Linked DNA regions of Homo sapiens. The protein of the gene in region 1 interacts with the protein of each later gene in a pairwise test. Each region holds a gene or a part of one and is shown on either strand. Other genes may lie near its edges. The genes, in order: ANXA11, NFKBID, TFG and KRTAP13-2.

Evidence for each region.
Region 2: the proteins of ANXA11 (region 1) and NFKBID interact in binary tests that used the Homo sapiens proteins (3 or more experiments, as listed by UniProt).
Region 3: the proteins of ANXA11 (region 1) and TFG interact in binary tests that used the Homo sapiens proteins (3 or more experiments, as listed by UniProt).
Region 4: the proteins of ANXA11 (region 1) and KRTAP13-2 interact in binary tests that used the Homo sapiens proteins (3 or more experiments, as listed by UniProt).

What each region holds. Positions count from the first base shown.
Region 1 is NC_000010.11:80,201,180-80,210,324, forward strand, and holds the start of ANXA11 (annexin A11), read right to left. Parts: upstream 4,359-9,145; 5' UTR 4,164-4,358; intron 3,313-4,163; exon of another isoform or gene 3,060-3,312; intron 215-3,059; exon of another isoform or gene 80-214; intron 1-79. UniProt on the Homo sapiens protein: Binds specifically to calcyclin in a calcium-dependent manner. Required for midbody formation and completion of the terminal phase of cytokinesis.
Region 2 is NC_000019.10:35,887,452-35,892,540, reverse strand, and holds the end of NFKBID (NF-kappa-B inhibitor delta), read left to right. Parts: intron 1-2,050; coding exon 2,051-2,167; intron 2,168-2,486; coding exon 2,487-2,651; intron 2,652-3,928; coding exon 3,929-3,982; 3' UTR 3,983-4,589; downstream 4,590-5,089. UniProt on the Homo sapiens protein: Regulates the expression of IL-2, IL-6, and other cytokines through regulation on NF-kappa-B activity. Functions in the regulation of inflammatory responses.
Region 3 is NC_000003.12:100,732,056-100,741,055, reverse strand, and holds part of TFG (protein TFG), read right to left. Parts: intron 8,549-9,000; coding exon 8,384-8,548; intron 4,481-8,383; coding exon 4,340-4,480; intron 1-4,339. UniProt on the Homo sapiens protein: Plays a role in the normal dynamic function of the endoplasmic reticulum (ER) and its associated microtubules. Required for secretory cargo traffic from the endoplasmic reticulum to the Golgi apparatus.
Region 4 is NC_000021.9:30,369,550-30,377,130, reverse strand, and holds KRTAP13-2 (keratin-associated protein 13-2), read left to right. Parts: upstream 1-4,859; 5' UTR 4,860-4,917; coding exon 4,918-5,445; 3' UTR 5,446-5,741; downstream 5,742-7,581. UniProt on the Homo sapiens protein: In the hair cortex, hair keratin intermediate filaments are embedded in an interfilamentous matrix, consisting of hair keratin-associated proteins (KRTAP), which are essential for the formation of a rigid and resistant hair shaft through their extensive disulfide bond cross-linking with abundant cysteine residues of hair keratins.

The DNA.
Region 1 (9,145 bases):
AGGCAGCCACATCTCCTCCATATCACTCACCACAGCCGCGATGCCAAGCTGACCACTCCATCCCACGAAGCAGACTCACCCTGGCCCCTGGGATACAACTCTGTCCTGGCTTTCTGGGCCCCTCTCAGGTCGCTCTTTTTCTGGGTCCTTTATAGGCTCATCTTCCTTTACTCAGCTGTTCGAGGTGAGTTCTTCAATCTCGCTGTGCCCATGACTTCAAATACAAACACAACCTAGACAAATGTCTGTCTAGCCAAGACGCCTCCTGAGCCCCAGACCCACCAGCTTATTTGGTATCTCAAAGACACCTCAAACACAACATGTCCAAAACCAAATACATGATCTTCTTCATCCTCCAAACCTGGTCCTCATCCAGTGTCCCATGTCTCAGGGACACCAGGTGGATGACTCTAGGGTGAGTGGGGGCGGTCTCTCCTTTTAAGCACACCACGCAGGGCGAGGCCAACAGTGGGTTCTCAGTAATAAGCAGTTCTACAGGAACATGCCTTGTCACCTACTTCCTAAAAATAGCCGTGACCTTTTTAGTGGACACAGCAAGCTCACATCTGTTATCACCACTCCTTCCCCACTGTCACACGCACCCTTTCCCCCAGTGGTGCCACTCCCCAGGCTGGATATGCCATATGCTCCCTAGCCTCCCTGTGAGCAGCCTCCACATTTCTCTTCTCTGCCCTCACTCAGATTTCCCCCATCTCATGTCCTCCAAGTCAGCCATCCCCAAGTGTGAGGGGCAGGGGACACCTGACTTCCTTCTCAATTTCCTTTCCTTCTTTTCTGCTAAGGCGGAGCCTAAGCCCCTGGAAAGCTAGAGATCCCAGAACCAGGCTTTGACCACCGCACACTCCACCCTCTGCTTCACAGCTCCTGGCAGTCACACACCCACGGTATCAACATTGTCATCACCACCCGCTAACTGATCTCAAACCCCTTTGCAAACATCTTCTCATCTGATTCTCCATTCCAGGCAGGCATTTTATCATCCAGAACTGTTCTGTGGGGGGGAAGCGGGGGGTCTCTGTGTGGCTGGGTGGCTTGTCCTAGGATACCTAGCACAGAGAACTCTGTCCCCCAATTTCTTAGTTGCCCCCACCCATTCCTTCCTCACATCAGCATGGGCAAGGCCAGCTGTGGTTTGGGTCACTGTTCAGGCTGTACTTTTAGGATCCTCCCAAATAGCAAACAACTATGTGACTATCAGGTCTTTATTTCATGGGTTATAGGAGATAGGGTCAGTAAGCCTAATGTGTAACAGTTTCAGTGGTTATTACAGAGTTCCATTGAATTGCAACAACTCCCTTTAAAAGCACAAACTCCCACCAAGAAAATCTCAGTTTCTTCATTAATCCTAAGAGCTTTCCTATCTAGGTATCACTCAAAATTCCTACTATTCTGGGGGCAATGGGATCAGAGGGTGTTGCAGAGAAAAATCCAGAGAAAGTGAAAAGTCTACTTCCTTGGCAGTGCTGGTGAAGCATACCCTTACACAGACGCTTCCCCATGGGAACAAGTGCCAGGAACTGCTTCAGGCTTACGGGGGAAAACAGTGGCTAAGAAGAGAGAGGAGGCCGGGCACGGTGACTCATGCCTGTAATCCCAGCACTTTGGGAGACTGAGGCAGGCAGATCACCTGAGGTCAGGAGTTCAAGACCAGCCTGGCCAACATGGTGAAGCCCCGTCTCTACTAAAAATACAAAAATTAGCCGGGCATGGTGGTGCATGCCTGTAATCCCAGCTACTCGGGAGGCCAAGGGAGGAGAATCATTTAAACCCAGGGAGCGGAGGTTGCAGTGAGCCAAGATTGCATCACTGCACTCCAGCCTGGGTGACAGGGCGAAATCTGTCTCAAAAAAAAAAAAAAAAAAAAAGACAGCAGAAGAAGAGGGGTGAATCCAGGAGGAAGGAGGGGGTGCACCAGAAAGGTCCCAGGACCTCTGATGTTCCAGCATTCAGCATGCATTTTGGTTCCACATTCAGCTCCTGCCCACACCAGTTTCTTTTCTCTATTCTACAATTTCCAAGAAGAACCCACACTAACCTATTCTGTCTCAACTCCCACTCCTGTCATCCCAAGCCACACATCACCTCCCCAATCACGTGAACTAGGCATCACTAATCGATCCTGGCCTTCTAGACACATCCACCCAGGGTGGGCCCTTTCTATAGTATCATGCATAAAGGCGTCAGGTGAGGCTTCCACTCCCACCTCTTAGTCCCAATTCATCTCCATCTCACCCTCCCCACGTTTCTCTATCCAAACCCAGCCTTCAAGGTCCTATATTTTAACCACAGGGAAACCACTTCCCTGTGCTGTCTCTGTTGTTCAACTAACGACAACTAATTTTCTGAGCACCTACATTAGGCAAGGCCCATCCTGAGTGCTGCCACCAAGAGGTAAGTCAGAAACAGCCCCCACCCTCCAGAGTCAGAGGACAGGGCAGCGATAAGCCACACCGCCACACAAATACTATGCAAGGCGAGAGATGAGAACCGAGTCAGTGCCAGAAGGGCTGAGTGAGCTCAGAGCATATCCCGTCCCTCCTGCTGGGAGCAGGCACCCGGATGGCTCCCAGGAGGGTGGAGAATGCTAGGCCAGACAGGGGAGGGAGGGCATTCCAGTAAGACAGAGAGCATGAGCTTAGCATGAGCTAAGCCAGAAAGACGGTTCAGGAGAAGTGCATTTCAACTTTAGCTGAACCTTCCACTGCTACTATTTATTGACCCTTACACCTGATTATTTATGACCCAGGCCTGCCTCACACACTTTATGGCTAATGTGGGTGACACCCATCTGGGATACACAAGTGTGGTGCAGCAGTCACCACCTGTTCTGACTGGTCCGTACCTGAGCTCTGTATTGTTATTAAATAAATGAATGCACTGAATCTCACAAGCCTGTGAGGCAGGGATTACTATTACCCCCATTTTACAGATGAAAAACCAAAGCACAGACAATAGTCAAAGAAAAGATAGCAAGGTATGCAGGAGCCTGAAGTAGTGGGCACCCAATGCCAGGGCAACAAACTGCCCTGGCACCTCACCTGGCCTCTCTTATCAGGGAACACCTTGCAGCACAAAGAATGCCTTGAGGAAAGGGGCCCTGTTAATCCCCTGGAATCCCCAACAATTGACTGCCGCATAAAAGGAATGAGGAAAGCAATGAGAGCCAGTGAAGGGTGAGCATACCAGGCCCTGCCCTGCAAACCTAGTCCCTGTTGCGTGGGCAGGGCAGGGCAGGGCAGGGCAGGGGCTCGGCCTCACAGCTCCACTCCATGCCCAGCGCAGAGAACAGAGGGGAGAGCTACCACAAACGCCGAATCTCTACAGAGAGGTCAAGGATTGGAGGGCAGAGACAGAAATGCCCCGGGCTGACTGTTTCCAGCTTGGGCTAGCACTGGCTGGCTTAACTTTTCCCCTCCAAAGTCTCTAGGTAACAAACTTCGCGTGTCTCCTTTAAACCAACAGACCATTTTACCTAAGTCTTAAGGGCCTGGCCTGCACCCATGGGAGATACAAGTCCAGGAATCCCTTCCTGAAACTGGGGATCAAGGTTGGGGAAGGGGCGAAGGCACGCACAGCACCTGGGATGGCTCCCGCATTCCCTCAAACACTGGGGAGAGTTCCTTACAAATAAACTGCAATGGTAGCAGCTCCCAGGAATGTGCGTGCTCCCAGTTTCGGAGGAAAGTTCCTGAAGATAGCCTTCTCTGCTTAATCTCCCCAAGCCTCGCCTAGAAGGGCGCGCGCACCCTGGAGGGCTCCGCAGGGCTGCGGGGCCGGGCCTCCGGCACCCCTCCCGCCACCCGTTGCCTCCTGCGCCCAGGGTCACGGCCCCTGGCCCTACCCAGGCCCAGACTGAGACCCCGACCCCTGAGCCCGGGGGGACGGCGAGTGCACCCCGACCACACATGAGGGAGCAGCCCCAGACGCCGAGGCTGATCTAGGGGGCTGCCAGGCCGACACGGCCCGCCCGCGACCCGCCGACGCCCTCCCCTGCCCCCCACCCCCACGCCTGTAGTGCAACCAGGAAGCCGCAGGGCCGCGCTGGGCTGGGCGCCAGGCAGCCCCGGGCCTCACCCGCGGCGCCGCGGTGCACTGCCGCCGCCTGGTCCCAGGCCCCCAGCCGGCTCGGGACCCTCACTCACCTGGCCACGGGGACTCCGGACGCGAGGGGCGAAATGGGACGTGGGCGGGAGTGGCTCTCTCCGCGGGCGTCCCGGGCGCGGCGCCTGGGTTCTGCCTAGGGGCTGGGTCCCACTCCCGCTCGCGGGGCCCGCGGGGCACTCGGGGCACTGGGGAGCCGCGGGCGCAGCAGCCGTCAGCGCCGGGCGGAAAACTCCGCGGGCGCGGCTGCCCCAGGTGCCAGAGGCAGTGCAAGGGAGGGGCGGGGCCTGAGCGCGGCCCCGCCCCCAAGATGAGGACTGGGCACGGCGGGCCCGCGAGGAGCAGCAGCCTTCCGGCTGCGGAGCTGCTCCAGGAAGTCTCGGGCTCCGGAGGTCCCTCTGCCGCCCCTAACCCCTGCGGCGCCCAGTGCCGCGCAGAGCCGCATTCGCCCTCCTGCAGGGGTGGGCATTTCCTAAGTCCTCTCCAGCCCCGTGTGCGTCGGTTAGTGACTCTCTTTAAGGTCGAGAAAACTTTTTACACTGAAAAGGTCAAACGCATTTCCTTTATAGCAACACTCGGTGGTGGTGGAGGGGGGAAGGTCACGCACAGTATGTGAGGAAGGGAGCGGTCAGTGACTATCGTGGAGAAACCTGACAAACCACCCAGCCGTCAAGGTGACCTCGACAGGGGTAAATCATACTGATTGCATGCACCGCTTGTGGTCTTCCTCCCAAGAACACCTAACCCCACTGTAATCATGAGGAAAACATCACAAATCAATTGAGGCCCTTGCCATATACATGACCAGTACTCCTGAAAACTAGCAAGGTCATCAAAAACAAGGAAAGTCTAGGACACTGTCACAGCCAAGAGGAACCCACGGAGATATAAAAATGACTTAAGATGTTAATAATAGGAAAAGCCCGGGTTTATGAGAATTCCCTGTATTCACACTTTTTCTGTAAATCTAAAGATGTTCTAAAAATAAAGCATATTTTTAAAAGGTCACCCAGGTAATATATGCATATATGGTAGGTATACAATTTTTTTTTTTAATGAGTGGTGGCTGACGCCTGTAATCTCAGCACTTTGGAAGGCCAAGACAGGAGGATGGCTTGAAGACAGGGCTTCCAGACTAGCCTGGGCAACATAGTGAGACCCAGTCTCTAAAAAACTAAAAATAAAAAATTCAAAAAATGAGTAAAAATTGAGATTCACTCTTCCCTCCACTCCCCCAGCCCACTCTTAGGTGTGTCCTTCCAAATATCTCTCTTTAACACTGTGTGTGTGTGTTTACATAAACGTATTGTTTACAAAACGATATTGCAGTACTTTTCTGCAACATGTTTTTTTACTCACTATATCTTGGAGGGTCTTTCCATACAAGTGCTCCTGAACAGACCTGGTTCTTCCCATCCACTGCACACTGCGCGCCATCGTGCGCTTCACCATTCTTCATTACCTAGCTCCTTACTGAAGGACATTTAGGTTGTTGCCTATGTTTGGCTGTTACAAACAAGCTGCTGGTTCGATTTTCCTTTTTTTTTTTTTTTTTCTGAGACGGAGTCTCGATCTGTCGCCCAGGCTGGAGTGCAGTGGCGCGATCTCGGCTCACTGCAACTTCCGCCTCCCGGGTTCAAGCGATTCTCCTGCCTCGGCCTCCTGAGTTGCTGGATCTACAGATGCCCACCACCACGCCCGGCTAATTTTCATTTTTAGTAGAGACGGGGTTTCACTATGTTGGCCAAGCTGTTCTCGAACTCCTAGGCTCAAATGATCCGCCCGCCTCGGCCTCCCAAAGTGCTGGGATTACAGGCGTGAGCCACCGCGCCCGGCCCGATTTGCGTTTTAAAGTCGCTCTGAACAATAAAATCCGGAAGGACTGGAGGGGAGGCTCCGACCTTCTCCCTGTCTGGGCAGGTGTGCTGGTGCCGGGCAGGAACGGTGCCTTGGGACAGCCTGGCCCCGGCCTCACAACGGGCCCCGGGCGCTCAGTCATATTCCGTGGCCGCTCCAACACCCCCTACCCCCACCAGCAGGCGCGGCTCTCTTTCGGGGCTGGACTGCATTTTTTGGACATGAGTCGGCGAGTGAGGGTGAAACTCAGGCCAAAGTCTCCAGAGCCGCTCGGAGAAAACGCTGCCTGGAACAGAAGAGCAGAGGATCAGAGGCACCACCAGAGACTCTCAGAGTGGGTTATTACCCTGGTGGGGGCGCCTGCTGCGGCGTAGGAGATGGCGGGACTGGGGGCGCGGGTGTGAAGCCCCCAAGAAATCTGTGTGAATTTCCTGGGGAGGTAAGGTCTCCAGGCGCTCTCTCTGGGCCCGGGGATTGGTCCGGGAAGGTCTCCTGGCGCCTACCCAGCCCCCACTGCCTGGACGCCTGCGCCTGCTCTGCCGCCCCACAGCGACCGCGAAGGCCAGCTTCTTCGAAAGGCCCATTTTTCTCCGTGGCTGAGCGAATGCTCCTAGAATACCACGTTTATAATAAATCATGTAGGGTGGAATTCCTGCTGGATGTATACACCTTTCTGCATCAGAGCTCTTCAAACCCAGAATGGTGAATAGCTACCCCTGGGCTTACCCTTTTATAATTTTCAACAAACCTGCGTTTAGCCCCGGCTAGGTGCCAGCAAGTTGCTAGGGACTGAGGAGGCTCTGCAGAGGACCCGAGCTGAGGCCCTAATCCTCAAGGCCAATGGCAGGGGTCACCGCCCAGGCACCCCCAGAGAACGCGGTGTGAAGGAAAAGACACCAAACTCGGTGTTCAAATGTGTGGGATCTATTCTAGTTCTGATTCTGACACTTGCAAGTCATGCATCCTCCGAGCCTCGGCTTTCTCACCTATAAAATCTTCAACGTGACCTATAAAAATCCATAAAATCACCCCTGCTTCATTGTTTCCCAGGGCTCATAGAAACATCATACAAGGTAAGGGAAGGTGAGTGCACTGTAAAAAATGGTGACGTGCTATATAGCTCTGAGTAGTATGGTATATAAGCTTCCTTTTTAAAAATTTTAATTTTAGGGCCAGTGTTGGGATTACGGGTGTGAGTTACCGCACCCGGCCTCTTTTGTTGTTTTCTAATAAGTATATATGACTATCATTTCCCTCAAAAGTCTGCTTTAGCTGAATATCACAAGTTTTAATATGCTATGCTTTTGTTATCACTTAGTTATACATATTTGGATTTTGTTGTTGTTGTTGTTACAGAGTCTCGCTCTGTCGTCCAGGCTGGACTGCAGTGGCAAGATCTCAGCTCACTGCAACCTCCACTTCCCGGGTTCAAGAGATTTTCCTGCCTCAACCTCCTGAGTAGCTGGGATTACAGGTGCACGCCACCACACCCGGCTAATTTTTTAATTTTTAGTAGAGATGGGGTTTTACCATTTTGGCCAGGCTGGTCTCCAACTCCTGACCTCAAGTGATCCACCGGCCTCAGCCTCCCAAAGTGTCGGGATTACAGGCGTCAGCCACTGTGCCTGGCCAATATTTTGTTTTTTATGTTAGGATTGTATGCTTAATTCATGGATTATTTAGACGTATATTTTCCATTCTTTTTTTGTTTTCAAACTTCAGTTTTTTAAAAAATAATAATAATCATTTGGGGAGGGGCCCAGTGGCTCAGGCATGTAATCCCAGCACTCTGGGAGGCCAAGGTGGGAAGATCGCTTGAGATCAGGAGTTTAAGACCAGCCTGGGCAACACAGTGAGAGCCCCTCTACAAAAAAAAATTTAAATAAAAATAAATCAATCATTTTGTCATTGATCTCTAACTTTAATGCTTGGAGATGAGGAAATGTGTTCTTTTAGAATTTGTTAATGCCTCCTTTGTGGCCTCATATACAGACTTTTTTTGGCTGTCCCAATTTTTGTGAACGTCTCTTCACTTTTTATGTGGTTTTTTTTTCTCTATATCTCTCCATCTAGCTTGCTAATCAGGTTATTTAGATCTTTTATCTCCTGGGTTTTTTTTTTTTTTCTCTCCTGTTCAATCCATTGATTTCTGAAAGAGTAGGTTTAACATTTCCCACTTTTATTGTAGTTTGTCAATTTCTCCCTCTAATTTAGTCTGATTTTGCTTTATACTATTTTTTTTGGTTTTTTGATTTTTGTTTAAGAGGCAGTGTCTCACCATGTTTCCCAGGCTGGAGTACAGTAGCTATTCACAGGTGTGATTATAACTGCAGCCTCAAACTCCTGACCTCAAGCCATCCTCCTGCCTCAGCCTCCTAGGTGGCTGGCATTACAGCCATGTACCACCTCACCCGGCCAGCCTTATAATTTTGAGAGCAAATTATTAGGCTTATACAAATTAATATTGTTTTATCCTTTTATGACTTATTCAGTTTTATTACTTTTTGTATAAATATTGTTATCCTGAGATAGCATTTGTCTAGTATATGTTTTATTTCTCCTTTTTTACTCTTTCTGTATTGTTACTTAGGTTTATCTCTTGGAAATGACATATTGTTTTTTACAAGATTTAAAAAGTTCATCTGAGTTTCTATTTCTAATTTGTGAGTTTAACCAGTTCACATTGATAAGAATAACAGAAATATTTGGGTTTATTTCTGCCATCATTTGTGTTATACATATACCCTTGAAATGGATATTCATCTAGAACACATTGATAAAATCCTATAAATTATTACAAACTGGAATTCTTCCATGCTGCTTGGTAAATAGCTGCTCACCTGAGACCCCACAGTGCCCCCACTCCTGACCTTCTTCTGATCTGGCAAAAAAGGGTCAATGCTTCTCACAGGGAGACCCTCTAGGACCTTTTCTAAGATTCTAATTAGTCAGCAAACAGGCTACACCAGTGGCTTAATATTTCAAATATCATGTACAATATGCTTTCTTGTTGTTTCTTTTTTCTCTTTCCCTGCATTCGTTTGGATTGTTTGAATTTTCTTTAATAGGAGGGAGGTACAAGAATTACAGATGTATCAATAAATACCAGCCTACTAGTACCTTTACCAGAATATCCCTCAAAAGCTCAAATTTATCATGTCAAGAA
Region 2 (5,089 bases), on another chromosome or scaffold:
ATGGAGTCTCGCTCTGTCGCCCAGGTTGGAGTGCAGTGGCACAGTCTTGGTTCACTGCAACCTCCCAGGTTCAAGTGATTCTCCTGCCTCAGCCTCCCGAGTAGCTGGGACTATAGGCATGTGCTATCACACCCCACTAATTTTTGTATTTTTAGTAATAATAATAAGTTTTTTAAAAATAAGAAAGATGGCTGGGTGCGGTGGCTCATGCCTGTAATCCAAGCACTTTGGGAGGCTCAGGTGGGCGGACTGCTCGAGCTCAGGAATTCGAGACCAACCTGGGCAACATAGGGAGACCCCATCTCTAAAAAAAATACAAAAATTAGCTGGGCTTGATGGCACATGCCTGTGGTCCCAGGTACTCAGGAGGCTGAGGTGGGAGGATCACCTGAACCTGGGGAGGTCAAGGCTGCAGTGAGCCATGATTTTGCCACCACACTCCAGCCTGGGTGACAGAGCAAGACCCTGTCTCTCAACAACAACAACAACAATAATAAAAGATAAGAACTCTTTCCCTGTAATCCCAGTGCTTGGGGAGGCTAAGGTGGGAGGATCACTCGAGCCCAGTAGGTTGAGGCTACAGTGAGCCTTGGTCACACCACTGCACTCCAGCCTGGGCAACAGAGCGAGACCCTGTCTCAAAAAACAAACAAAAAACATAGCTTTTTTTTTTTGAGACGGAGTCTCACTCTGTTGCCCAGGCTGGATTGCAATGGTGTGATTTTGGCTCACTGCAACCTCTGCCTCCCGGGTTCAAGCTATTCCTGTGTCTCAGCCTCCCAAGTAGCTGGGATTATAGGCATGTGCCACCACGCCTGGCTAATTTTTGTATTTTTAGTAGAGACGGTTTCACCATGTTGGCCAGGCTGGTCTCGAACTCTTGACCTCAAGTGATCCGCCCTCCTTGGCCTCCCAAAGTGCTGGGATTACAGGCATGAGCCCCTGTGCCCTTCGAAAAAAAAGAACTTTTTAAACCTCAGTATCATTGCTCTGTCTTTAAAAAATTAAAGATTTTCTTGTAATACCAAATATCCTGGCTGTATTCAAATTTCCTTTTGGCTGTAAAATGATAATTTTTTTCATTAAAAAAAATCAAGATCCAAATAAGCACACATATTATGATGTTACGTCTTTTCAAATCACTCTTAATCTAGAGCTTTGGTTTTGTCTTCATCATTTTTTGGACGAGCAAACTAGGTGGTTTTGCCCTGTTATCAGCACATAAAATGTTTAACATTCATTATCGTTACAAACTCCTTAAAGACACATAAAAAGGTTTCATTTTAGAAAATGTCTTTTATTTTCCCCCAAATATGATGGGAACAGCTCAATATTGTGGTGCAGTATTGCAATATTAGCTAGTCCACTGATTAATGCTGCCAACTCCTGTGCTTGTAGATAAAGTACAGTCTGTGTGGGTCGGGATGCAATTTAATGTGTTGAATGGAGGGCAGGTAGCCAAGGCAGTTGCTTTGAAGAACTGGAAAAGGAGTCTCTTTCTCAGACACTGGTGGGAAAATTGTCATGAGAAATGTACAGTTCTGGAAGGTGTATGGTGTGAATGGTACACCCTGAGACGTGGTGTTGTGCGGTGCACAAGACATACAACTGAATAAGGCACTCTTGGTGGGGCTCGCAGAAGAGGGCCAGCATCTTATTTATTTATTTATTAATTTTGAGATAGAGTGTCACTCTGTCACCCATGCTGGAGTGCAGTGGTGTGGTCATGGCCCACTGCAGCCGTGAACTCCTAGGCTCAAATGAACCTCCTGCCTCAGCCTCCCAAGCAGCTGGGACTACAGGTGCGCACCACCACGCCTGGCTAATTTTTCTATTTTTTGTAGAGATGAGGTCTTGCTGTGTTGTCCAGGCTGGTCTGCAGCTCCTGGCCTCAAGTGATCCTCCTTCTTCAGCTTCCCAAAGTGCTAGGATTACAGGCGTGAACCACCGCACTCCGCCAAGGGTCAGGGTCTTTAAAGACTCCTGGATTCTGTGGGAGGGCACCTAGGTGTGAGGCTGGCCCTGACCTCTGCCATTCCCTTCCCCTCAGGAGATCAAGAGCAACAAGACAGTTCTGCACTTGGCCGTGCAGGCTGCCAACCCCACTCTGGTTCAGCTGCTGCTGGAGCTGCCCCGGGGAGACCTGCGGACCTTTGTCAACATGAAGGTGGGAGCTGGGGCTGGGAAGTGCAGATTGTGTGGGGTACGGTAGGGGGGGCAGTGGGATGTTAGGGGTCCTGGGGGCTGTGGACGTGGAGGGGACGATGTGTGGGATCTGCAGGGGAAAGTATAGGAAGCAGACACAGATTGCCCCAGAACATGTAGTCCGTGGACACAGGGATGCATGCAGCGTGGCTGTGGCCGGGGGAGGTCTGGGATGTGAAAGGACAAGTGTAGGACGTAGACAAGGCAGAAATTGAAGTGCAGTTTAGAGGCCTGGGCCAGCTGAGCCCAGATCCCCACCAGCCCTCCCCTTACTTTTCCAGGCCCACGGGAACACAGCCCTCCACATGGCGGCTGCCCTGCCCCCTGGGCCGGCCCAGGAGGCCATCGTGCGGCACCTGTTGGCAGCTGGGGCGGACCCCACACTGCGCAACCTGGAGAATGAGCAGCCCGTTCACCTGCTGCGGCCCGGGCCGGGCCCTGAGGGGGTAAGTAAGCACTGAGCCTGCCTGTAGAGTGGCCTCTGAGCTCGCGGGCGCGGGATGACCTCCCTGCCCCACCCAATGCTCGCTTTCAGAGAATGACTTCTAATCTCGGAAGGTGACTTCAGCCCTCAGGCAACCCTGACTCTATAATGTGACCTCTGACCTCAGTGTTTCATCCTTTACCCCAGAATGGTGACTTCTCTGATCTCTACCCCAACCCTGACCTCACAGTGTGACCTGTACTTCCAACCCTGAATCTTGCTTGACCTCAAGGTGTGACCTTTGATCCCCCCAAGTGTGACCTCCTACCCCCTGCCCCTAACCTTGGGTCCTGACCTCAGATGTGACCTTTGACCTCTTACCTGTTCCCTTCAATTCCCTCTCATTCCTCACCCCCAGGTGGGAACCCCCAGCCAGCAGCCCCTTTCCCTTCACTGAAGTTCTGCTTCCTGACCCTTTCTCAGTGTACGAACCCAGGCCTTGACCTTCTTCCCACATCTTTATTTTTATTTGTTTGTTTGTTTATTTATTTATTTTGAGGCAGCGTCTTGCTCTGTTGCCTAGGCTGGAGTGCAGTGGCATGATCATAGCTCACTGCAGCCTCGAGCTCCTGGGCTCAAGGGATCCTCCCACCTCAGCCTCTCCAGTAGCTGGTACTACAGGCAGTCACCACCACACCCAGCTAATTTTGTTTTTTTTTTTTTTTAAGAGATGGGGTCACACTATGTTGTCCAGGTTGATCTCAAACTCCTGGCCTCAATTGATCCTCCCGCCTTGGCCTCCCAAAGTGTTGGGATCACAGGAACCATCACTCCCGGCCTCCTTCCCAAATCTTTTTTTTTTTTTTGGAGGCGGAGTCTTGCTTTGTCACCCAGGCTGGAGTGCAGTGGTGCAATTTTAGCTCACCGCAAGCTCCACCTCCCAGGTTCAAGTGATTCTCCCACCTCAGCCTCCCAAGCTGGGACTAAAGGCACACGTGCCACCATGCCCGGCTAATTTTTGTATCTCTGGTAGAGGCGGGGTTTCGCCATGTTGGCTGGGCTGGTCTTGAACTCCTGACCTCAGGTGATTTGCCCACCTTAGCCCCACAAAGTGCTGGGATTACAGGCGTGAGCCACTGCACCTGGCTCTTCCAAAATCTTGACTCTGGACCTCTGATCTTCAAATCCAAAGGGACCCACTCAACCTCTCTTCTCTAGCCCCTCCCTCTGCATGGCGTGCCTTCCCCACCTCTCCTTCCAACCTGACAGACTTCTCTCCCTCCTTTGCCTTGTCTACAGCTCCGGCAGCTGTTGAAGAGGAGCCGTGTGGCGCCGCCAGGCCTGTCCTCTTAGGACTCAAACCCAGACCCTGGACTGATTTTCCAGTCCCCACCGTCCTGCGGGACAGCCAGCGTATGCTAATGTTGCAAACCCATGATAATGTATGTGGAATATCCTGCCATTGGGGTTTTACATTAAAACCCCAGAATGGCTGCAGAGGGGTGAACAGGCCCCAATATTTGGGGTGCTGTGATACCCCTCTTCTACCCACAAGGAGCCCTCTTGATGATTTCTGTGAAATCGAGGCCCCTTGATTGTTTCTGTGAAACACCCTGCACCCCTAGTCCTTTCCCCACTGAGATCTTTCGGGTTCTCTCCCCTAACTCAGCTCTTCGTTCCCAGAAACCCAGATGTAATCCCCCTACGTGGTGCTTGGGGCATCCCGATACCATCTCAGTAAATCTCCTACAATGGCCTCCTCACCCTCCCCGGGACCCACACCCTTCAGGTCCTCACCCTGAGACAGGAGGGACCCTCTGAGATCAGGGACCCTTAGGTCTCACTGCTCTCTGATTCAGAGCTCAGCTGGGCCCCCAGTTCCAGACCCCAGCATTCCCGGTCACTCCCTCCCTAATCTGAGCATCACTCAAGCTCTTTATTAAACTCAATTTGGGCCAGATTTGGTGGCTCATGCCTGTAATCCTAACACTCTGGGAGGCCGAGGCGGGCGGATCACTTGAGGTGAGGAGTTTGAGACCAGCCTGGCCAACATGGTGAAACCCTGTCTCCACTAAAAATACAAAAACAATTGGCTGGACATGGTGGCATGCGCCTGTAGTCCCAGCTACTTGGGAGGCTGAGGCAGAAGAATTGATTGAACCCAGGAGGCGGAGGTTGCAGTGAGCCGAGATTGTGCCACTGCACTCCAGCCTAGGTGACAAAGAGAGACTCTGTCTCAAAAAAAAAAAAAAAAAAAAATTTAAACTCAATTTGGACTAGAACCACTGTTGTCTGATCTCTGGGGGCACTGGTGCAGGGGAGTGGCTGTGATGCCCGCTGAGGGGTCATATTGGGATGAATGTGCCTGAGGGGGGAGGATGTAGCAGCCACCATGGGTGCCAAGTCCATATCCTGTCACCCTCACCCTGGCGACACAAGAGGGACTGGCCTTTAGGAGGC
Region 3 (9,000 bases), on another chromosome or scaffold:
GAGCTACACTTTTATATGACTGGCAGTAAGTCTGTTTACACCAGAATCACCACAAACACGTAAGTAATGCCTTGTGCTACATTATGATGGCTACACATCACTAGGCAATAGAAATTTTTCACCTCCATTATAATCTTATGAGACCACCATCATATATGCAGTCCACTGTTGACTGAAATGTTATACAGTGCATGACTATATATAAGCTATGTTTTATGTATATTTTCAAAAAGAATCAATGACAGAATAAAGTAAAAAGTAATAAAAAAAATTAAGGGGAAAAGAGAACAGGATGAAGCAAAGAGTAATGGTAAGACTTCTGGGAATTATTTATTACACAGAGTAGCCAACCTCTATCATGACCCTCAACGGCTTCTGCACATGTATAGCATTTATGACAATGGGTTGGTATCGTTTATATTCTTAGAAATTAGAAAGATTTAACTCCACAATACAAAAATGACCAAATAAGCAACAAGCACATGAGTATCTGCTCCCTGTTAGTCCCTCACATACTGAATAGGGCTGACCTGTATACCAAGAAAATATTGCAGAAATGACAGTGACATTTCTGAGGACAGGCTATAAAAGGTTATCTTCTACCTCACTCTCTTCTGATTACTCATTCTGGTGAAGCTGTCATGTCATGAGGTCACCCAAGCAGCCCCATGGAGAAGTCCAAATGGTAAAGAACTGAATCCTCCAGCTCTGGTTAAGCTTCAGATGACTATAACCCCAGCAGCCATTTTTAACTGCAACCTCATGAGAGATGCTGAGCCAAAATCACCCAGCTAAACCATTCCGGGATATCTGTCTAAAACTGTATGAGATAATTAACTTTTGTTGTCTAAGTATCTATGTTTTGGGATAATAGTTACACAGTAATAAATAATACACATAGTTTTGATTTTAGAAACATGTAAGGGATTTTAGAAACATGTAAGTTTTTTCTAATGGCTATTAGAAAAAACGACTCAAGACACATTAACAATGCAAAGTGTGAACCTTGTTAGGCCCCTCATTTGAACAAGTCAATTTAACAAACGAATCTTGAAACAATTAGGGAAATTCAAACACAGACTAGCACACGTTGACATTAAGAATCACTGTTGAGGTTGCAGGTGAGCTGTAATCAAGCCAGTACACTCCAACCTGGGCAACAGAGTGACACCCTGTCACAATTAAAAATAAAAAGAATCACTGTTAAGTAACAGCATGGTGGTTATATTAAAAAGAAGATTATCAGTTGGACATATATACTGAAATACCTGAGTATAATAAGCTGTTCATAATTTGATTTAAACTACTCCAGCAAATTAAAAGGGGTGCAGTGGGGAAAAAATGATGAAAAAAGAATGCCAAAATATTGGTAAGTGTTGAAGCCACATGACTACATGAAGAGTTGATTATTCTATGTATGTTTCAATATTTACATAATAAAGGCTACTCAGCTTTTCATTATATTGGCATATGATTTTAAAGATTTTAATTATATGCTTTTTCATTTTTTTAGGCTGTCAAACAGCAATATCTCCCGATCTCTGATGATTTTTAGCGTTCTTCTCCTTACCAGTTACATTTCTGGCAACATCACATAGTCTTCCTGTAACAGGCACTGGCTTTATATGAAAAAGAGTAACATTATCCCTTTTGGTTTTTTTTTAATGATGCTCAATATCTTGTTGATCCTTTTAACTGAAAAACATATTAAGACTACATTTATTTGGAATAAAATTCACAGTTCCAAAGTCCCTTTTATGGGAGTTAAGTAACAACTCAGAATTCTTAATTTTAGTATGGACTATTAACACATTGTAAGAGATTGCTATGTTAACAAATTATAAGTAATACATTTTATGTTGGTAATTCTGCTCAAATTATAACCAGTAGTTGATCTAAATAACTGACAATGTCAAAGACTCATTATACAACAAAAAGTAAAAGTAGCCTATAATTCATGCTGGGAATCTATAAATAACGACTATATTTATCTAAAGCTGTGCTCTTAAAATAATCACTAGCTACATGTGGCTATTGAGCACCTGAAATGTGGCTTGTTTGAAATGTGATATGTTGTTTGTTGTTTGAAGTGTTCCAAATCAGTGTCAAATCCCAGACTTCCAATACACAGTACCAAAAAAATTAACTTTTTAATAGTGAGTACACGTTGGATACATTAGGCTAAATAAAATTAATTTTACCTTTTCTTAAACATTTTTCTAATGCTGCTAAATAGAAAAACTACATGTGGCTTCTATCGTAATTCTTTTGGACAGCACTGATCTAGAATTAGATCAGTTATTAATAGTTTAAATGATGTCACATATTAATTGTACAATTTTCATACTGTATGTTTTAATGTAAGCTAACAGTTAATTGCAGCAAGGCATACAATACTACTCTAAAAATTAAATGCATATAAACAGTGTTAATCTGCTACCTCTGAAAAAAGGAATTTGGTTGCTGTGGACAGAGGTGGGAGAGAGAATTTTCACTGTATGTCCTTTCGCATTTTTAAAATTTTACTTATTTGAAAATGCTCAATTAAACACTTCATAGAATGTTTAGATATTGCTAGTAGCGCCTTAATTCCCATTTATTTATACATAAACAGCAAACATTATTTGGTACAATGATCCTTCCAACTGTCATTGTATCACAGTATACACTGCTTAAAATGGGATTTATTTAAAAACAAATCTTTAGTTCGCTTGATGTAGGCATTAAACTCTCATCATACCTATACTCTGCTTTTGTCCATTTCAGCTGACATCTGCTTTAGTTCTAGTTTGTTCTAGTTTTGGCAGTAGCATTTTGGTGCAGAGGAGGAGTTAATTAAAGTTGGTTGAGAAAAGGCTTAAGCAATAAGAAATTCTTCGCAAACCACTGATTCATCAGCAAAATGTCACCTGCTAGTCCATAATGACTGGTGTTCATCCAACAGACAACTCTGTGGATTTTTTTTTTTTTGGCTTTGTTTGTTTTTGAGACAGGGTCTCGTTCTGTTGCCCAGGCTGGAGTGCAGTGGAGTGATACAGCTCACTGCAGCCTAGACCACCCACTTCAATTCAACAATGCAAACAATCCTCCCACTTCAGCTTCCCAAGTAGCTGGAACTATAGGCACATGCCATAGCACCTGGCTAATTTTTTTAAATCTTTTTTTATTTTGTAGGGACAGGGTCTCACTATGTCACCCAGCCTAGTCTCAAACTCCTGGGCTCAAGTGATCCTCCTGGCTCGGCCTCCCAAAGTGCTGGGATTATAGGCGTGAGGCACCACACCTAGCCAGGTAACTCTGAAAGTATCACCACAGGATGATAGGATTCTATTCCAAAAGTGGTCAGTTCATTTTAGCCTATGTTTTGTTTTTGTTTTAATGTAATTGATAACCTTAATCACTTGCTTCTGGGGCTGGAAATACATTATACCACTATCTGACCCGTTAAACAAATAGTTAGAGCACCACCTGGTGTTTGTTTTGAAGTGGAATGCGGCTTTAAAGGTCCCAACACACATAGACAATACAAAAATCACACTTCATTATCTGGAAGGCACCCTAGAGATTAGTTAAGTACTTAGTCACATTCTGCAGAACTCCAAGGTTTTCAATGAGGCACCTTAGTGCCTGCTGTGTGAAGTCTGTTGCCCTTCAATCCCCTATTTTAAATATGGAGCTTTCAGGTTATATTTCATTCAGAACTAAAGACATTCTTTTGAAACCACTGGGTTCAGTCCAGTTTTCACATTTTACAGTGAAAGAATATCAAAACCCAGAGAGACTAAACTGCATATCCAAGGACAGATTATTTCAGAAGAAAAAGTCTGACTTAAAATACACTGCTTTTTTTCCATTAAAGACATATTGCTAAATTTACAAAATTATAAAAGGCTACTAATCTTAACAAAAAAAACCCACTACAACTAAAGTTATCCTTTACCTCTATTCAGAAATCTTTTTTAAATTAGAAAAATCATGCACAGATGTTGAAGAAAGGAGGGAGATAAAATAGCATCTATAACACAAAATAAAGTGTGAAATCACCAGTCTGAACTTCACTATCCTCCCCTCCAAGGGTCACCACTGACTAATGACTGGTCTTTCACTCTGTATCTATATTCATAGAAACACTTTTTTGAGGTATTTTTTTCATTCCAATAATTGGAAACATACCTGACATATTGTTCTATTTGGTTTTTTAACATCAAATCATGTCAGTAAATCAAAATTTTTCCTGTGTTTAAGGCATGACTAAATACATGAAGTGTTTACAACAATGCTGTAATAAACACTTCTACACATGTACTTTCCCAAACATGTGTTCTAAACTCTATTTTACCTTCAATCTGACCTGCTTGAGTCTGAGCTCCTGTATATGGTGGCTGCTGTGGCTGAACGCCTGGTGGGTGAGCTGCTGAGGAGGAGGAAGCAATGCTGTCGGGTGTTCCTGAACGATCTTCTGCAGGAGCACTGGGTGGCCCTGGATAGTCAAAAAAAAGTCAGTTTAGTATCCAACACAAGGCCTTCCCCCAGCAAGCTCAAGGAATAAGTTTGGTTAAAAGATACTAAAAGTACTATAGAATAAGTATATAACCACAAATACGCCTTTTTACATTAAATGTATGTACTTTATTTTTTCCTTTGCTCCAATCTCTTAATCCAAAGCTACAACTGGAACTCCTTCCTTATAAAGTGTAGAGTACTATATTCCTGAGTCTTAACCTCTCCCTGCAAAAATCAAAACTCATGTCTGCAATGCCAATATCCCCCTACTCCAAGCAATGTATTCTGCACAGGAACCAAAATTGTCACTTCATTCTTCAAGGGGTCTTCACTGACCATAAATTAAGTTCAACCTCCTAGTTTGGCATTAAGGGTCCAAACATTATTTCTCACAATTTCTCTTCTCACATGCCTCCCTTTCAGCTAAACTAACCTTCTCCCTACTCCCATAACATAGCTAATATTTTTTTGACCTCTATTTCTCTCCCACTAGATCCCATATATTTAAATATAACATTCACATATTTAAATATAACATTATTTAAAATCCAATTATAATTCCACACTTCTAGTAAGCCTTCTTGACTCATGAATACTTTTTCTACTAGTGAACTTCTATCTAGTTTACTTTTGTTAACTCATACTGACTTCTACTTTGCATTTCTGAATAGCTCTCACTTTCCCTCTTAAAGACTCTGCACTCTTTTGGCCGGGCTCCTGACTGTTGATTCTTTTTGTCTGCCGAACAAGGCCTAGCACTCTAACTTACATATGGAGCCACTATAATTCTTACAAAATAATGAACACAGAAATGAATGGAGAGAATATATTACAGTTCCAATGCTGTGACAGTCAAAAAAGATATTCTGAGGACAATGTAAATATGTCTTATTCCTTTAAATTCTTTCTGCTTTGGCAATGCAGAAGAGTGGTTAAAAGCATAGGTTTTGGAGCTAGACTACCCAGGTTCAAATCCTAGTGCTGTCACTCACTAGCTGTGTAACTCTGGACATGTTACATAATCTCTTTCTGTGCCTCAGTTTCCTCATCTGTACAAAGGATATACTAATTCCTACTTGATAAGGTTATTGTGAGGATTATGAGTTTACAAGAGCTTATAGCATGGGCTTATAAAAGGAATTATACAGCAAAAGCTTATAAAAGTGACTACTACTCAGAAAGTTCCATATAAGTACTTGCTATTATCAGCAGACTAATTTCTCTAAGGGCAAACCTCTATCTTCTGCTCTGATGTATCCCCAGAACTTACCACAGTATTAGGCACAGTTGACAGCTGACAGTCCAAGTATTAATAAGAACCTAAACTAGGATATAATAGTGGTAATGCAAGAGAGACTGATGATTGCCAAAATAAAATGGATGATGGTTTCTATCTACCACCATTTTACTTAAATTTATATCTATGTAGATAAATACACACATTCTTCCCACAAAAGACACTGTTATTAGCCTAAATATATATATTTATTACTTTGGCTCCTCTTTCCTCCCTTATATGTAATTTATTACAGTTAATATTCATTCCATGTTTGTAATATTTTATCCCTCCTTCCCACTGCCACATTCATTATTCTAATAAGCCACATTTTTACCACATCACACCTGAAGAACTACAAAAGTATCCTAGCTATGCATACAGTTTTTCCTACTATAATTCAACATACAAAGCTGTGAGAAAAATGGTCTTCAAATAATGTGAATCATATTAATATTATTCTAGTCTGGAATATACTACATTTAAATCAAAATTTAAAAGTCTGACCTCATCAAATTTTCACACAATTCTCTTTTGTGAGTAATTCCATGAAAGTCTCTAAGAAATACAAAATGGACTGTACACATTTCCAACTACTGATAAAGGCAAAGTAAATCCATCAGATAAACTCTCTCCCAGGTAACAACTAAAAACATGAACAAAACAAAAGAAACTATTTGAAATAACTGAAAGTCAATCAGAAACCAGAGGAGTTTACCCCAATAAAATTAGAATGGATAAGAATTAAAAGCGCTGACCTCTGCAGCTCCAATGGCAGAAAACCACAGTGTTAACAACCTTATGGCTAGACAAGCAGCTGAAGATTTAGGAGGAAAATCCCGGAAGTGAAGGTGCTACTGAAAGGGTAAGACCCACGATCTAGGTATATACACTCTGTCCAAATCCCCAGCTGACTATAGGGCTGGGAGAGCAGACGAGGATATCTCAAGAAGGCTCAGAGAAAAATGCAGCACCTAGAGCAAGCTGAAAGGACTGAGCATACATATCAGCTGCTATACACCATAGGGAGAAAGAAGGAGCAGTTTTGAGTATGTGAAAGTTATCAAAACCAAAATGAAGTCATTAATGTTAAAAAAAAATTAAAAACTCTGATAAGGCCATGAAGAGAGGATTCTTGCAAAAACTATCACAAAAGAGTTCAAAAACCACAAGCCTACACAAAGGCCATCACAACTTTGCAAAAAAAAAAGCAAAAAAAAAAACTTCTGTGACTGTGAGGACATCTGCCCAGAAACTGCCTGTCCAACCTCAGACTGGCATCACTCTTGCTAATGATCTTTGTAGCCAACAATAATTATTTCAAAACAATTATATATTCTCCTCATTTTTTCCTTTAAAAACCTTTGTCTGCCTTTACCTCACTGAATATGCACATAGTTTACTATGGCATGCATATTTTCAATGCAATGCTCTATTCCCAAATACCTTTTTCTTTTAGAGAGCGCTTTTCTGTTTGTTATTTATGTTAAGTCCATACAAATCAACTCCCTGCTAGATCAACAATAACAGAAAATCCTCAAAAGAATATAAGTCCAAGTCACTACAACATATTAACCAGAATGTCTAGTTTTCAACCAAACACTATCAGACAGGCAAAGAAACAGAAAAATGTGACCCTACTGGAGTTGGGGGGAGTGTGTGTGGGGGAGAGGAACCCAGTCAATAGAAACTGACTCCAAATGGGTCCAAGTGTTACATATTGCAGATAAACATTTTAAAGCAGCTAAATATTTTTAAAGAATCAAACATAAATACATTCAAACAATTAAAGGAAAATATAGACTTAATGAATGTAAAATAAAGAATCTCAACAGAAAAACAGAAACTATAAAAACCCAATGGAAATTCTAGAGCTGAAAGCACAATTAAACAATTCACTAGAAAGGTTCCACAGCATATTAGAAATCACAGCGACCTTGAAGAGTTCAACAGAAATCACCCAACCTGAAGAACAGAGAGAAGACTGAAGAAAAATGAACCTTAATGACCCATGAGACAGTATCAAGCTCTCCAATGTATGTGTTATTAGAATCCGAAAAGAGAAAAAGCAGGAAAAAATAATGAAGAAATTATAACCAAAAGTTAAACAGAATAAAACAATATAGGTACTGCTTTAAGGTTAAAAACTTATTTATATAAAAACCCACTGTATACTCAAGCAATTTAACAAGAAAATCTACATTTAATTTTCAATTTCTCTAAGATGAGGAGATAAGACAAATCAAATATAATTCGAATACTGCAACTAATCAAATTATAAAATAGTTCAGATTTTTAAAAACTTTCTAAATTTTACTTTCAAAAATTTACTTGAACCCAACAGTGCTTATTCTTTAAGGGGGAGGGTGCTACTCTTGGGGAGAGGACATAAGAAAGCTTTCTGAAGTGCTGGAAATCATCTACATCTTAATCTAGTTAGTCTTTTACATAAGTGTACACATATGTAAAAATTTGTTAAGCAGAACCCTTAAGATTTGTGCACTTCACCATATCCAAGTTATTCTTCAATTAAAGAAAGAAGGAAAGGGAAGAACGGAAAGATGAAGGAAACGAAGGGTGTAAAGGAGTTGGAAACCAACTTACCTGAAACCTGATCATCTGTTAAGCCAAACGCTGACATAACATTTTTATTGATTTCATCTTGGTTTTTTAAAGGATCAAAAGCAGACATACTTGCTGCCATAACCTGAGTAGACTGTTTTCCAGAAGAATCAGAAGCAGACTTTTCTTCCCTACCATCCACAGTATCTGTAAAAATAGAGGAATAAACAAAAACTTGTTTCCTTTTTATCTATATTCAGTAAGGCCTAAAAGTACAAGGGAAATAATGCAGGTGTATAATGATAGTCTGGAATGTTAAGCATGTCGGAATATAGGATTACAGATCATTTTAATTCCTTTATTTTTTTTATATTTTTCCTTCTAGTAACAGGGAGAAGAGGGCAAAAAGAAACAGAAGATGAACAAAAGCTTTCCAAAAAAATTATTTACCTCCTTTTGTAAGAAACATTAGATGAAAAAAATACAAGCTCCTTGATAAAGAGAAACATTTTACTTTTTTTGGTTTTTTTGGAGCCCAATAACCTATATCCTAGTATCAGATACCCACTGGGCACTCTGGAAATAATAATTATAGGAACTAAGGCTTTATTTTATAAAAAGAAACTGAACTAAGGTTATAATCTCAAATTTTACATTTT
Region 4 (7,581 bases), on another chromosome or scaffold:
TGAATCCAAAAGCCTTGATCGTAACTACCATGCTAGAATTGAAATTATGTATGTCCAGCAATTGCATCTAAATATACATGTTCCAGAAGCCCTAGACAGTAGATGCAAGGGCCTATATAGAAGTATATTTCTTGCCACATGGTTTGTGATAGTAAAAAATCAAGAATGGTAGAGCGATATATCAATAAAATATTTTTATACAGTAGAATTCTATAAATTTGTAACAAGGAATAAACTAGATGTGTGTATCATAGCAACATGGTTATTTGCATAAAGTCTGACAATGGTGTCAGTATTGCAGTTCAAATCTCATCTCTGCTACTAACTACATGGGTAGCTTTGGCAAGTAACTCAATCTGTTTGTGTCTCAGCTTCCTCAGCTATAAAACAAGAATAAAAGTGGTGTGTACCATGTAGAATTATTATGAGGATTGAGTTAATATTTGTAATACAGTGCTGAGAACAGTGCCTGACATTTAAAAGTTCTACTGTAGTGATAATAAATGCACAAATATATAAATATCAACTTGGATATGTTTTAGATATTTTTATTTAAATAAATTTAATATAAAAAGAAAGCTACAGATACATATATGTATCCAATAAGATGGCATTTTTGTAACTTAAAACAACAATAAATGGTATAAACCGATAAATATATGTATAGACAATTTCCTGGAATGCTATGCAAAAACGAATGCATTATTGTGATGCCTTTGGAAAGATATGAAAAAGAATCAGACTGAGAGACTGGCCCACAAGGGGTCTCTCTCTGTAAGATAGCGAATAGAATGGTGGTTACCATAGGCTTGCAAGGGTAGTGGAAAGAAAGGACAGAGAGGTGTTGGTTAATGGGTGCAAAAATATAGTTAGATAGGAGGAATAAGATCTAGTGTTCAGTAACACAGTACAGCAACTGTGGTTAACAATAATGTATTGCATATTTCAAAATAACTAGAAAAGTAGATTTGGAATGTTCTCAACACAAAAAAAATGATAAATGTTTAAGGTGATGGATATGCCAGTTACCCAGATTTGATCATTACACATCGTGTGCCTGTATCAAAATATCACATGTACCCCATTAATATGCGCAACATTATGTATCCATAAACATTTAAAATAAAAAAGAGAAAGATGAACGCAAATCTGACAACGTGGTAACAATTGTGAGTTTAGGCATCCAGAAAATGACTCTAGAATTTACTTTAATTTTCTATTTGTTTTCAGTAAATGCAAGGGTAAGGTCTCAGAAGAGATAAGAAGAACCGAGAGGTGTGTAAGCAGGCTGTTTATAAATCTTTTTGTTTGTTTGTTTGTTTGAGACGGAATCTCACTCTGTCGCCCAGGCTGGAGTGCAGTGGCATGACCTTGGCTCACTGCAACCTCTGCCTTCCAGTTTCAAGCGATTCTCCTGCCTCAGCCTCTCCAGTAGCTGGGATTACAGATGTCTGCCACCACGCCTGGCTAATTTTTGTATTTTTAGTAGAGACGGGATTTCGCCATGTTTGAAAGGCTGGTCTCAAACTCCTGACCTCGTGATCCACCTGCCTCGGCCTCCCAAAGTGCTGGGATTACAGGCGTGAGCCACTGCGCCCAGCCTGGCCTTTTTATTTCAAACGAAAGTCATGGATGATGAAGACATAAAATGGATGAATTTGAAGCAGGAAGAGCTGTAGTGAAGTTAGAGGAGGTGCCAGGGCCTGGAAAAGTCTCAAACAATGAGGCCGGATGACCTCCGAGAAAGCCACAGGCCTGGGTAGGCTTGCATGGGGGACTGGGAAGAGACCATGAACAGGTTAGTCCAGGGAGTTCTCATCAAGCCTTTACTCAGTAGTGGGTTCTTCATAGTTAGCATTAATGTTTAATAGATACATTTCCCCTTGGGTGAGAATTTTAAAAATAAAATCTAGTGTAAAGCAGCTGTTATGAAGACTCTTTAGTGACCAGACAATAAAAGCCTCTCCTAGGTCTAGAGAAGGCAGAAAATTAAAAAGTGAACAGAAAGTAAAAAGGTGGCCGGACGCGGTGGCTCACGCCTGTAATCCCAGCACTTTGGGAGGCCGAGGCGGGTGGATCATGAGGTCAGGAGATCAAGACCATCCTGGCTAACATGGGGAAACCCCGTCTCTACTAAAAATACAAAAAATTAGCCAGGCGTGGTGGCGGGCACCTGTAGTCCCAGCTACTCGGGAGGCTGAGGCAAGAGAATGGTGTGAACCCGGGAGGCAGAGCTTGCAGTGAGCCAAGATTGCACCACTGTACTCCAGCCTGGGTGACAGAGCCAGACTCCGTCTCGGAAAAAAAAAAAAAAAAAAGAAAGTAAAAAAGGTATAGGGCAGTATATATGGATTTTTACTATTTCTACTACTGCCTAATATTTGGTTAATTTGAAAGCTTTTGAAGAATCTCTGGAAACATTGCAATAGAAGATTGTCAGTTTAAAGCTTCTGCTACATTACTATGTTAACTTGGAAAAACAATCACTTTTCAAGTAATTCAGATCATAGGCTACTTGTGGCTACTGTGTACTGTAATGATAGTTTTATTCTCTGTAGTGTTGTTATGCCTAAATTTCTAAAGAGAAAAGAGAAAGAAGAAAGAAAGAAAGAGAAAAGAAAGAAAGAAATAGAAAGAAAGAGAAACAGAGAAAGAGAGAGAGGGAGAAAGGGAGGGAAGGAGGCAGAGAGAGAGGGAGGGAGGGAAAGAAAAGAAAGAAAAAGAAAAGGAAAGAGAGGCAGAGAAAGAAAAGAAAGAAAAAGAAAAAGAAAGAGGGAGGGAGGGAAGGAAGGAAGGAGAGAGAGAGAAAAGATTTCAATATCACGTTTTCCCTGACATATCAAGATAGTGAATTTTTCTTTCTATACTAATACTTTGCCTGTGTATGTAGAGTACGTAGAGTATTTTATTAGTTCCAGAATCCACTTTTGAACTGTTAAGGCTACTCTAGTTTTGTTCTGCTTTTTCTGCCTTTCAGATGGACACATTTATTAGCATTTGGGAGTTGTTCATTAGCATTTGTACAAAGTGCACAAATAACTCCTAATAAAAAGTGTTAACCCAATTAGGAATGGGTGGAGGGACTGTTAATTGGAACTGACTTACTCCCAAGTTATTTTAGTGTTTATTCCCAGACATAGGGAGCTGGTCTAGAAAGGCAAGAACTTTTGGATATTAGTAAGTTTTTTGTTTTCTTTTTTTTGAGCAGAATCAACCTGTAGTAAGAAAAGAAAAATATTTCTCATTTTAAAGGTGTTAAAAGCTGCCATTATAAGGAATCCCATGTGTTGGGGGTGGTGCATACTTTTTGGTGAATTTAATAGGTGTCCATTCATAAAGCACAGCTTATTTTACTTCAGTGAATCAGAGTGATGGTTTAAGTATTGCACAAGGGCACTTCATGTGATGCATGCCACACTTTGGATTCTGCATGGGAGAGATAATCATAAAACAAAGTAACTAAGTGCTCTGAAACAGTGTGCTTTGGAATGAAGGAAGTTAATTTTCAGGTAGTTAAGAGGCTCTCTTTTCGATAACCATTGTGAATGCCATTTCCCTTAGTTAAACCAAATAAAATGTCAAATTCAAAAGAAGAAGAATAGACACAGATAAGAAGCCTCTTCCCCCCATTAATCTAAACATGGATTACCAATATTCTTTCTCTTTCTTGGGCTAGGAAGTGAAATATACTTCAAATGTATGAAGATCAGTAAGGCATAGAATTCCCCAGTTGAACACTATTCAGTGTGAATATTGTTAGGAAAAGTAAATAAGGCTTTGTTAGGCTTTTATATCTTAGTATAAATAAGCTTAATAGTTTCTTTTCTGAGACAAGTTAAAGTTGAATTTACTTTTATATTTGCAAGGTATTTGCAACTTGACTCTGAATAAGAAAACCATAATTAAAGCTTCAATTTTGCTTCTATCTTACTGAGAAATTAGGGGAAAGTTAAAGCTCTCTGAGAGGTAATTTTTCCATGTATGGGTTGAACAGGGGATGTTTAAAGACCCATATAACTCTAATACTTCAAGTTAAAAGCTTCAGAAAAATGTTAACAATTCCTCAAAGTTTAAGTATAAATTAATAATTGCAGCTAAGAATCTGTCCTTTTATCCAGAAAAAAAAATTGAAACATAAAACAAAATAAAATTTATGAGTTGATTTAGAGCATAACCATAGAATAGTGCTTGCTACAAGATAGGTTCATCAGAAAATATCTGAAAAACTTCAATTTAAAGTCTTACTAAAAAGTTTGTGTTTATTGTTTCCTAAGTGAGCATTGTCTAAAGTAGCCTCTTGTTAAGGAAGATGCCTGATATGGACACCCAACATAATGCTGCACTCCTCAGTTCTGATCCTGAGCTCTTAAGGTACTAGTAAAAGGTTTAACTGACAGATTGCTGAGGCTACTGAATACAGTTAGTATTTGGAGAAATCCTCCGTTTCTGGTAACAAATAATATGCTTGTGTTAAAAAGAAGGACAATCTATTTTGAGTAGTAACCACTGATGCTCCTGATAACTTAAGGGAAGTAAAGAAAGAATTTTGTGTAATTCCATTTGGTACAATAAGGACTCACTGTACTCAAATAATAAGAGGCAAGATACTCATAAATGTGATGACATATAACATTGAAGGTCAAACCACAGTGAATTCCAGGAAAAAAAAAAACTGAGTGGCTTCCTTCTAAGTGTTCCAGAGTGACTAAAGTACAAGTAAGTATATGAAGATGTGATAAATTAAACAATAACCTAGGGAAGCATTCTTATAATAAAAAGTGAGCAAGGAGAAGGGAGTGTCGAGACAGTGGACACACCCAGGTCTAAGAGCATATATAACTTGGAGTCCAGACTATGACATTCAAACTCAGAGAATCTTTCCACTATAACTCAGCTGAACTCACATCTCCCGTCAACATGTCCTACAACTGCTGCTCTGGAAACTTCTCCTCCCGCTCCTGTGGTGACTACCTGCGCTACCCAGCATCCTCACGTGGCTTTTCCTACCCCAGCAATCTGGTCTACAGCACTGACCTCTGCTCTCCCAGCACCTGCCAGCTGGGTTCCTCTCTCTATAGGGGCTGTCAGGAGATCTGCTGGGAGCCCACCAGCTGCCAGACGTCCTATGTGGAGTCCAGCCCCTGCCAGACCTCCTGCTACCGCCCCAGAACCTCCTTGCTCTGCAGTCCTTGCAAGACGACTTACTCTGGGTCTCTAGGCTTTGGATCCAGCAGCTGCCGCTCCCTGGGCTATGGATCGAGGAGCTGCTACTCAGTGGGCTGTGGGTCCAGTGGTGTCAGATCCCTGGGTTATGGAAGCTGTGGCTTCCCTTCCCTCGGCTATGGATCTGGATTCTGCCGCCCAACCTACTTGGCTTCTAGGAGCTGCCAGTCTCCTTGTTACAGACCAGCCTATGGATCAACCTTCTGCAGATCAACTTGCTGAATTTCCAGACCTTTTAAGCAAAGTGTCTCAGTCTCTACGTAGAGCTGTTATCATAGGCATTTCCAGCAATGTGAGCTAACCCCTCTTACTACTAGCTCTTCATCCTTTCTCTGGCATCAAGTACTGGCTGGACAGGCTAGTTCTTTCAGACTGTGAAATTAATGAATGAGCAAAATATAGAGTCAAATGTCTATAATTTTGAAACAAGTGATTCGTTATCACGTAAGTTCATCTTATAAAGTATATGGAAGTTCAGTTTTGTTTCACGTAATAAATTCATTTACTGTTGATTCCAATATGTTCTCTTTGTCTTTTATTGGTTTCCAAAGTTTGATTTGTGATCTGTTTTGGGGGCTCCAGGCCCCCAGACGTCTTTTCCTTGGACATCCATTTCCATCGGTAATGTCATCAGGCCTAGTGTGTGGGGAGATTCTCCGGGCATGCCAGTGCCTAAAAGACTGAGCAAGTGCATGTCTTCTGCCATGAAAACTGGTTGGATTCTTAACAGAATTATTGAGAGTACACTCATAATGGTGGTGTGTTTTCAAGGAAGACACATTTTGCTGACAATCATATTTGCTTTTTGTTTACATTTTTAAAAGAGTATTTAGAGTTTTCTCAGAAGATGTCAACTAGGTGATTAAATATAAAATTATGAAATATTTGAATAAATCTGAAATGTTATGATGGAAAAGGGAAAATATGAAATGTTAGGTACTGGAGGACATTACGGTTGTGTTTAAATATAGGAGAAAATTAATTATTCAGTGTGTGTGTGTGTTTGTGTTGTGTGTGTGTGAGAAAGAGAGAGAGAGCACAGAAGACAGAAAGACTTAAGGTTTACAACTGTGAGTAATGGAAACAGTTATAGGGAGAAATACTTTGGCTTGTTTTAAATGTATATTTATAAATCATAAATTTATAGAACTATTATGACCTTTGTGTTTTCTTTGGATTATTGAGTTTATCAACAAGGAAAAAGATATTACTTTTCAGTGATTTCTGCATTGAGTGGCAGTTAAAATTAGATTACTTTCAATGTTCTAGATTTTATAACCTCCCTCAGTATCCTTGGAATCCACTGCTCAGCTGTGACAGTGTGAATAAAAATAAATATTTGTAGGATGCTATTCACATCTGAGATATAAGACCTTCTCTATTTATTTTAATTTAAGCAAGTGATTTCTTTCAGAGGCTAAAGGTAGTGTAAAAGTTCAGCTAAAACTTTTTCATAAAATATTCAATAACAACTCTCCATGAATGGGAAAACAACTTTGAAAGATTATCATTTCCTCCAATAATATGTCACGAGCTTTAATTGATTTTTTTCCCTGACACCTTTCCCTTAAGCTTTTTATAATTAAACCTGAAAAAAGAGGGTATCTTTTCTCTTATAATGGAGACAATACGGGCTAAGCATGGAAGTGTGGGAACCACATCCTCTGATCATAGAAACCTGCCGCCACAGAAACTAGAAGAATAGAGAAGGGAAACACGGGAAGAAACTCCTGGCAACACAGAAGCCTCTGATTCCCATGTACCTTAAGCCAGCTTTATTCATCCTTTAAGTGCTTTGATCATATGGGTCAATAAAGTCTTCTTTAGGTTTAAACTAAATAAAATAATTGAAATAAAATAAGACTTCTGGCACTCTCATACAAAGATTTACAATACTGGCAAACCAAATCAAGCAACACATCAAAAAGCTTATCCACCATGATCAAGTGGGCTTCATCCCTGGGATGCAAGGCTGGTTCAACACACACAAATCAATAAACGTAATCCAGCATATAAACAGAAGCAAAGACAAAAACCACATGATTATTTCAATAGATGCAGAAAAGGCCTTTGACAAAATTCAACAACCCTTCATGCTAAAAATTCTCAGTAAATTAGGTATTGATGGGACTTATCTCAAAATAATAAGAGCTATTTATGGCAAACCCACAGCCAATGTCATACTGAATGGGCAAAAACTGGAAGCATTCCCTTTGAAAACTGGCACAAGACAGGGATAACCTCTCTCACCACTCCTATTCAACATAGTGTTGGAAGTTCTGGCCAGGGCAATCACGCAGGAGAAGGAAATAAAGCGTATTCAATTAGGAAAAGAGGAAGTCAAATTGTCCCTGTTTG